2 linked regions of the Homo sapiens genome follow. The protein of the gene in region 2 purifies or fractionates together with the protein of the main gene of each other region. This does not show direct contact. Each region holds a gene or a part of one and is shown on either strand. Other genes may lie near its edges.

Region 1 (3,500 bases), on a different chromosome or scaffold from region 2:
CTGACTCAGCCTCCAGAGTGGCTGGGACTACAGGCGCACACCACCACGCCCAGCTAATTTTTGTATTTTTAATAGAGACGGGGTTTCACCATATTGGCCAAGATGTTCTAGATCTCCTGACCTCATGATCTGCCTGCCTTGGCTTCCCAAAGTGCTTGGGATTACAAGCTGAGCCACCGCGCCTGGCCTCAATACTTGTTTTTTTAGGGCATCATCATACAGTCATTTCACTGGTAACACTGTACTGTTGTATAGCAGGAAAACGAGTATTAATAATGACCCATAAACACCAAGCATTAATAATGACCCATAAACACATTACGAATAAGAGGTTAACCAATATATTCATTTACTGTTTAGGAAAAACATTCCAGTACACATTTAGTCAACATTCCATAAAAAAATTACTGACTTTTAAAACTTATGGTAGGCCAGGCATGGTGGCTCATTACTGTAATCCCAGCACTTTGGAAAGCTGAGGTGGGTGGATCACTGGAGGCCAAGAATTGGAGACCAGCTCAAGACCAGCCCGGGCAACATGGCAAACCCTGTCTCTACAAAAAATGCAAAAATTAGCTGGACATGGTGGTATGTGCCTGTAGTACCAGCTACTTGGGAAGCTGAGGCAGGACGACTGCTTGAACCCAGAATGTTGATGCTGCAATGAGCTATGATCACACCACTGCGCTCCAGCCTGGGTGAAAGACCAAGACCCTGTCTCTAAAATTTAAAAACAAAAAAACCCAAAAAACACCTTCTGGTACACAGCTTTTATTCATCTGGAAAATTCACTTGTTTAGAAGATTTAACTTCCTCTCACTGAAGAAACGAGATAGTATAGAGAATTCCTGTAATTTTTATGGTTTTATCTTCACTATCAACCAACTAGACTCAGGTAGCAGGGAAGTAATATGGGAGTGTTTGGGTTTGGGTTTAAGTAACTTTGGTCTTCACCACAGCCCTGATTTGGATAAATACTGAAGGATTTCAGAAAGAAGAGCTACACCCTTGTCACTCCTAAGCAAGCAGCTCAACCCATCAGCTTCTAGAGTATATTGTCCTTATCAATATTCAAGGCTTAAGGCAGGGACTTATGTACTATGCTTCATTAGTAGAGAGAATGCACCATCAAAAATGAGTTAATGCCAGCCTGGGCAACATAAGGTGACCCCATCTCTACAAAAATAACAGAAAAAACTAGCCAGGTATGGTGGTGTACACCTGTGGTCCCAGCTACTTGGGACACTGAGGTGAGAGGATTACCTGAGTCTGGTGGTCAAGGCTGCAGTAAGCCCTGATCACTGCACTCCAGCCTGGACAAAAGAGTGAGATCCCGCCTCAAAAAAAGAAAAGTCAATGGGGCCCAAAATCTCATGTAGGTGGGAGACTAAAGTGTGCTTTTTTTTTTTTTTGAGACGGAATCTCGCTCTGTCACCCAGGCTGAAGTGCAGTGGCGCGATCTTGGCTCACTGCAAGCTCCGCCTCCCAGGTTCACGCCATTCTCCTGCCTCAGCCTCCTGAGTAGCTAGGACTACATGCTCCCGCCACCAAGCCCGGCTAATTTTTTTTTTTTTTTTTTTTTTTGGTATTTTTAGTAGAGATGGGGTTTCACCATGTTAGCCAGGATGGTCTCGATCTCTTGACCTCGTGATCTGCCCATCTCGGCCTCCCAAAGTGCTGGGACTACAGGCGTGAGCCACCGCACCCGGCCAAGACTAAAGTATGCTTTAAACCCGTAACAGGTATGTGCTCCAAGTCCTTCTTTCCTGACTTTTCGGAAAAAAATTTAAATGCCTCATTACATAGTGGCATTTAAAAACTAAAATGGGCCAGGTGTGGTAGCTCACAGCTATAATCCTGGCTACTCAGGAGGGTGAGGTAGGAGCATTGCTTGAGGCAGGAAATTCAAGACTAGTCTGGGCAACACAGTAAGATCCCACCTCCCCTGAAAAAATTTAAAAATAAATCAGCTGGGCCTGGTGGCATGTGTCTACAGTCCCAGCTACTTGGGAGGCTAAGGTAGGAGGATTACTTGAGCCTAAGAGTTTGAGGCTGCAGTGAGCTATGATCGTGGCACTGCACTCCAGCCTGGGTGACAGCAAGACCTTGTCTCTAAATAAACAAACTTTTCAAAGTGAAATACTTCCCCTTGTACCGACACTGAGCTCTTCTTGATAAATATACAGAATGCTTGGCATATACAAGATTCTATACTACTGACTGATCTGTTCATTTCTCTCACAGCTCTTACCCCCAAAAGCTTTTCCACCCTAAGTGTTCTGACCTCCTTTTCTAATCACAGTAGGGATAGAGGCAGACCCACCTACAATGAACATGGAGTTCTATCAAGAGGCAGAAACAGCACAGAATCCCAGTTTTACCATTCGCTAGCAGTGCTGCCTTGAACAAAAACATTTCTCCATGTCTCATTTTCTTCATGCCTCAAGTAACAGTGAGAATTTAACCTGTTTAACTCTAAGATATGAGTCAGAGAACAGATAAAACTATTTTGAAATGTAAAGAATACTTTATAAAATTCAAGGTAAAAACTCAATGTAAGCACACTATTCTGGATGCCTTGGCAAGTACTTCGTAATAAGGAGCACAAATATGATTATGGCCAAAGACACTCTTCAGTGTGTGGAGGAATTCCAACTCCCTTACATTTCTTTCTTTTTTAAATTTTTTGTTTTTAGAAATAGGGTCTCATTCTGTCACCCAGGCTGGAGTGCAGTAGCATGACCAAAGTTCATGGCAGCCTCAAACTCCTGGGCTCAAGCAATTCTCTGGCTTCAGCCTCCTGAGTAGCTAAGACTACAAGTATGTGCCACATGCCCAGCTAATTTTCTAAACTTTTTGTGGAGACAGGGTCTTGCTATGTTGCCCAGGCAGGTATCGAACTTCTGGCCTTGAGCAATCCTCCCCCACCTTGGCTTCCCAAAGTGCTAGGATTACAGATGTGGGCCACTGTGCCCGAGCTACATTTTTTTTTTTTCTGAGACAGGGTCTTGCTTCATCAGCCAGGCTGGAGTAGTGGCTCAGTCACAGCTCACTGTAGCCTCGACCTCTGGGCTCAAGCAATCCTCCTGCCTCAGCCCCAAGCAGCCGGGACTACAGGTGTTTAACACCACACATGGCTAATTTAGAAATTTTTATTTTGTAGAGATGGGGGGTCTCACTTTGTTCCCCAGCCTTGCATTTATCAACTGTAAAACTGGCAGGTGGATATGGTAAAAATCATAATGGTGAAAAGTAGTACAAAGGGGCAGAGGGAGAGAGAGTATCAGGAAGAATAGCTAATGGATGCTGGGCTTAATACCTAGGTGATGGGTTGATCTGTGCAGCAAACCACCATGGCACACATTTACCTATGTAACAAACCTGCACACGTACCCGGGAATTTAAAATAAAAGTTGAAGAAAAAACAAAAGAAAGAAAAGTAGTATAATGATTTCACCACAAAGGGAGAGCATAAGCAAGGTATGAAATTATTATCCTTA
Region 2 (3,500 bases):
CCTGCCACCATCGGGTTGCCGCCCAGGGCCTCCCCATCACTGCAAAGCAGGGGGCAAAGCGGTCAAGGGCCACGGGGTAGGGATGGCTGGCCGGGCTCACGGGCCTTGGTTCTAGGCGCCCTGGTACCCAGCACACCCTGGCCGTGGGGCCACCCCACCCCAGGTGCTGTGTTGTGGAGAGGCCCCCTCATGGTCACAGGGCTTCTGAGCAGGAAGGGGTCGGGGGCACAAGGTTGGACACAGTGCTGCCCTGCGGCCGCTCAGTGGGTGAAGGATGTGGAGCCGCACAAGTGGGCGCTCGTGGAGGAGGCGGGCCCAGCTCAGGGCCACGGGGCTTTCTGTCCTTTGTGTATTTCTGGAGGAAGCCGCTGCCCCACAGCAATGGGTGAGGCTGAGGTGCTGAGGCCACTGTGGGTGGAGCTTGTCCAGGGCTGTCCTGGGACCAAATGCAGGGCTTTGCTGCAGGCAAAATTTGGGGCAGCTTGGCAGACAGAGTGGTGGGAGGGGCTGGCAGATGGCTGGGGAGGCGGCTCTAGCTCCCAGCTCTAGGACCTGCAGGAAGCCGCCCCTGTCTCTGCAGCACCTGGATCCTGGCCCTGTGGAGACCACATCTGGTGGCCTGAACCTCCCATATGACCTGCAGTGGCCTCTCCAATGGCTTCCATGTGGCATCTGCCCACAGAAGACCCCAAGGTGCCCCTGTCCTCTCCAGGGTGTGGGCAGAGCAGGTGGCCAGGCCTTTCTGATGTCTGGAAGCCCCGTCCAAGCCCTTCCCTCGTCTGCTCCAGCCACAGAGCTGCTCTGTCCTCAGCCAACAGTGACCAGCCGGCGGGGGGCCCCTTCTGCGCCCCTAGAAAGCCAGCCCCACCTGCTGCTCGGGCACCCTGGAGGCTGGGGGGCAATGGGAGAGGAGGCCCAGGCCCACCCCTCACCTGTCGCTGTCCTGCTGGGCAGCCTTGGCCCCCACCTTCTTCTCGTCCCTGGCGGGGGTTGTGTCTTCCAGGAAGCTGCGGTCCAGGCGGTCGTCAGGAACAAAGTCCTCCACACTCTGGACCGTTGCTGGGCCCTCTGCGGCCGGGACTGGCTCTGTGAACAGTGATGCCGGGTCCTCTTCACTCGGCACCAGAACCCTCACTGCACCCAACCCCAAGCCAGGCCCACCCGGGATGTGCCCACGGGACTGGGACAAGCAGGAAGAAGCGTGGAGCGCTCCGAAATCCAGGACCCCACCTGTGAGGGCCTGGGGGTCTGGGACCAGTTTGGGAGGGGCAGCTCCAGGGCCTACCTGGAGGTGGAGGGGCTGCCTCGGTGGCAGGTGACGTCCCAAACAGCCTAGAGATGATGCTGCGCCGTGGGGCGGGGGCTGAGGGGCACGCAGGTGGGGGCAGGGCCTCTGAGGGTGGTACAGGGGGCACAGAGGATGGTGGGGCGGCATTGAGGGGCAGCTGTGGGGCGGGCTGGGGTGTGCCGGGGCTGGAGCTCCCCGTGGACACAGCGCCTGCAGGCACCACTGGTGACTGGGAGCCCGGGGATGGGCTCTGCCCGTTGGCCGCCAGTGGGGACGCATGGCCACGGCTGCGAGCCTCCATCATCTCCAGGAAGCTGAAAGGCAGAAGGCGGGTGAGAAGCCTGGCTCCCCTGCCTCTCCCTGAGGCCCTCAGGTGACAGGGGGCTCTCTGCTGCTGCTGCTGGGGCTGGGAAGAGCCACTGTGTTCTGGGCCACCCGCCCCACAGAGGCCATCATCCCCATCCACTTCCAAGGGCAGCAGTGCCAGCCAGGCACGGTGGCTCATGCCTGTAATCCCAGCACTGTAGGAGGCCAAGGCAGGCAGATCACGAGGTCAGGAGGTGGAGACCGTCCTGGCTAACGCAGTGAAACCCCGTCTCTACTAAAAATACAAAAAAAATTAGCCGGGTGTGGTGGCGGGTGCCTGTAGCCCCAGCTACTTGGGAGGCTGAGGCAGGAGAATGGCGTGAACCCGGGAGGCGGAGCTTGCGGTGAGCCGAGATCACACCACTGCGCTCCAGCCTGGGCGACAGAGCGAGACTCCATCTCAGAAAAAGAAAGAGCAGCAGTGCCAAAGGGTGGGGACAGCAGGCACCAGCGTACATGTGTCCAGCTCCCCTGAAAGTCACTTCGGATCTGTTCTGAGGCACAGCTGTTGGGGGCTCCATGCAGAGGTGGCCAGATGGCAGCAACTGGACCTTCCCGTGAGCGGGGGTTTCTGGGAAGAGGAGGGGGCTGGGGCTTGGTGGAGCACGTGCGGCCATCGCAGCATCCAGCTGACCCAACTCTCAGGCCCAGGAAATGCCAGGATTGGTTCAACAGAGAAGCGCCCATGCGGGGGGCTCCATTCTGGGGCTGGCCTGGCAGCTGGAAGCCACGGGTCCCTCTCCAGGCATCAAACTGCCTTCCCTCTCGGTCTCTTGCTGTGTCTGAGCCAACAGCCAGATCCAAGGTGACCCACAGGGCTCTCCTTCTGGAAACAGAGACCTCCTGGGGGGCCTCAGGAGGGCCACTGATTCCGTGGTCCCTGCCTGGGTCCCAGGGGAGGCACCAAGCCCCTAGCTGTACAGGAGCCTGAGGCAGAGAACGGGCCAGCTGTCCCACTGGCCGCAACCCCGGGGCTATGCACTGCCCAGGCCCACTCAGGAGGATGCTCTGAGCCGCCCTCTGCTATCGAGGACCAGAGACCTCCATGTCCTGGCCTGTATGCCTCTTCAACACAGGGAGCTTCCCAAAGTCAAGCAGCTCCCCAGAAAGCACACCCCATGCTGGCATCAATCTGGGAGGCCAAGCCCCTGATGGGCAGGCAGCCCCAGCAGCACTCCATGAGCACCAGCACCTGGCCACGGTCAGCGGTACTCAGAGTGGCAGGCACAGCATGACCTGTATGAGGAGTCCACGCCAGGGGTGACTGTGGGGGGGCTGCTGGGGGCAGTGCAAACCTGAGTCCTCCTCCACCCGTGCCCAAAGGTGACTAATTTACCCCAAACAGGGGACACTCCCCTCTGCTGTCTCCTTGGTGCAGCCCATGGCCCTGCACCACGGCCACGCCCGCAGCCCCCACACCGCCCGCACGGGCGGGTCCGGCCACATACATGCCGTAGTTCTGGTCCTCCGTCTCCTGCTGCACCGACAGCTCCTCCAGCGTGGCGTCCATGTCCAGCTGGTTCGTCTCCAGCTGCCGCAACAGCGTCTCCCTCTGCAGAAAGGGAGCACGCAGGCCTGAGCAGGGCTCCTTCCTGCTGCGAGTGCCCCAGCCCCACAGCCCCTGAATGCACAGGGGACGCCTCCTGCTGCCAAAACCAGGAGATGCTGCAGGGCTGGCTGCTCAGCAACTCATGGAGCTCTGCGCTGGGCCCCACTTGAACCACAGAAGCCCAGAGGATTCCTCTGCGGTGGCCGGCACGACACCTACACACTGCCAGCATGGCTTGGGGGACAGCTGTCAGTCACAGGCATAAACCTCAACAGCAAGCACCCCCACCCACACACG

The links. The genes of interacting proteins can lie anywhere in the genome.
Region 1: the proteins of RABL6 (region 2) and PPP4R3A fractionate together in Homo sapiens (co-fractionation; one large-scale study listed by BioGRID). This does not show direct contact.

Annotation. Positions count from the first base shown.
Region 1 is NC_000014.9:91,500,311-91,503,810, forward strand, and holds part of PPP4R3A (serine/threonine-protein phosphatase 4 regulatory subunit 3A), read right to left. Parts: intron 1-3,500. UniProt on the Homo sapiens protein: Regulatory subunit of serine/threonine-protein phosphatase 4. May regulate the activity of PPP4C at centrosomal microtubule organizing centers.
Region 2 is NC_000009.12:136,835,448-136,838,947, reverse strand, and holds part of RABL6 (rab-like protein 6), read right to left. Parts: intron 3,207-3,500; coding exon 3,103-3,206; intron 1,603-3,102; coding exon 1,286-1,602; intron 1,087-1,285; coding exon 933-1,086; intron 40-932; coding exon 1-39. UniProt on the Homo sapiens protein: May enhance cellular proliferation. May reduce growth inhibitory activity of CDKN2A.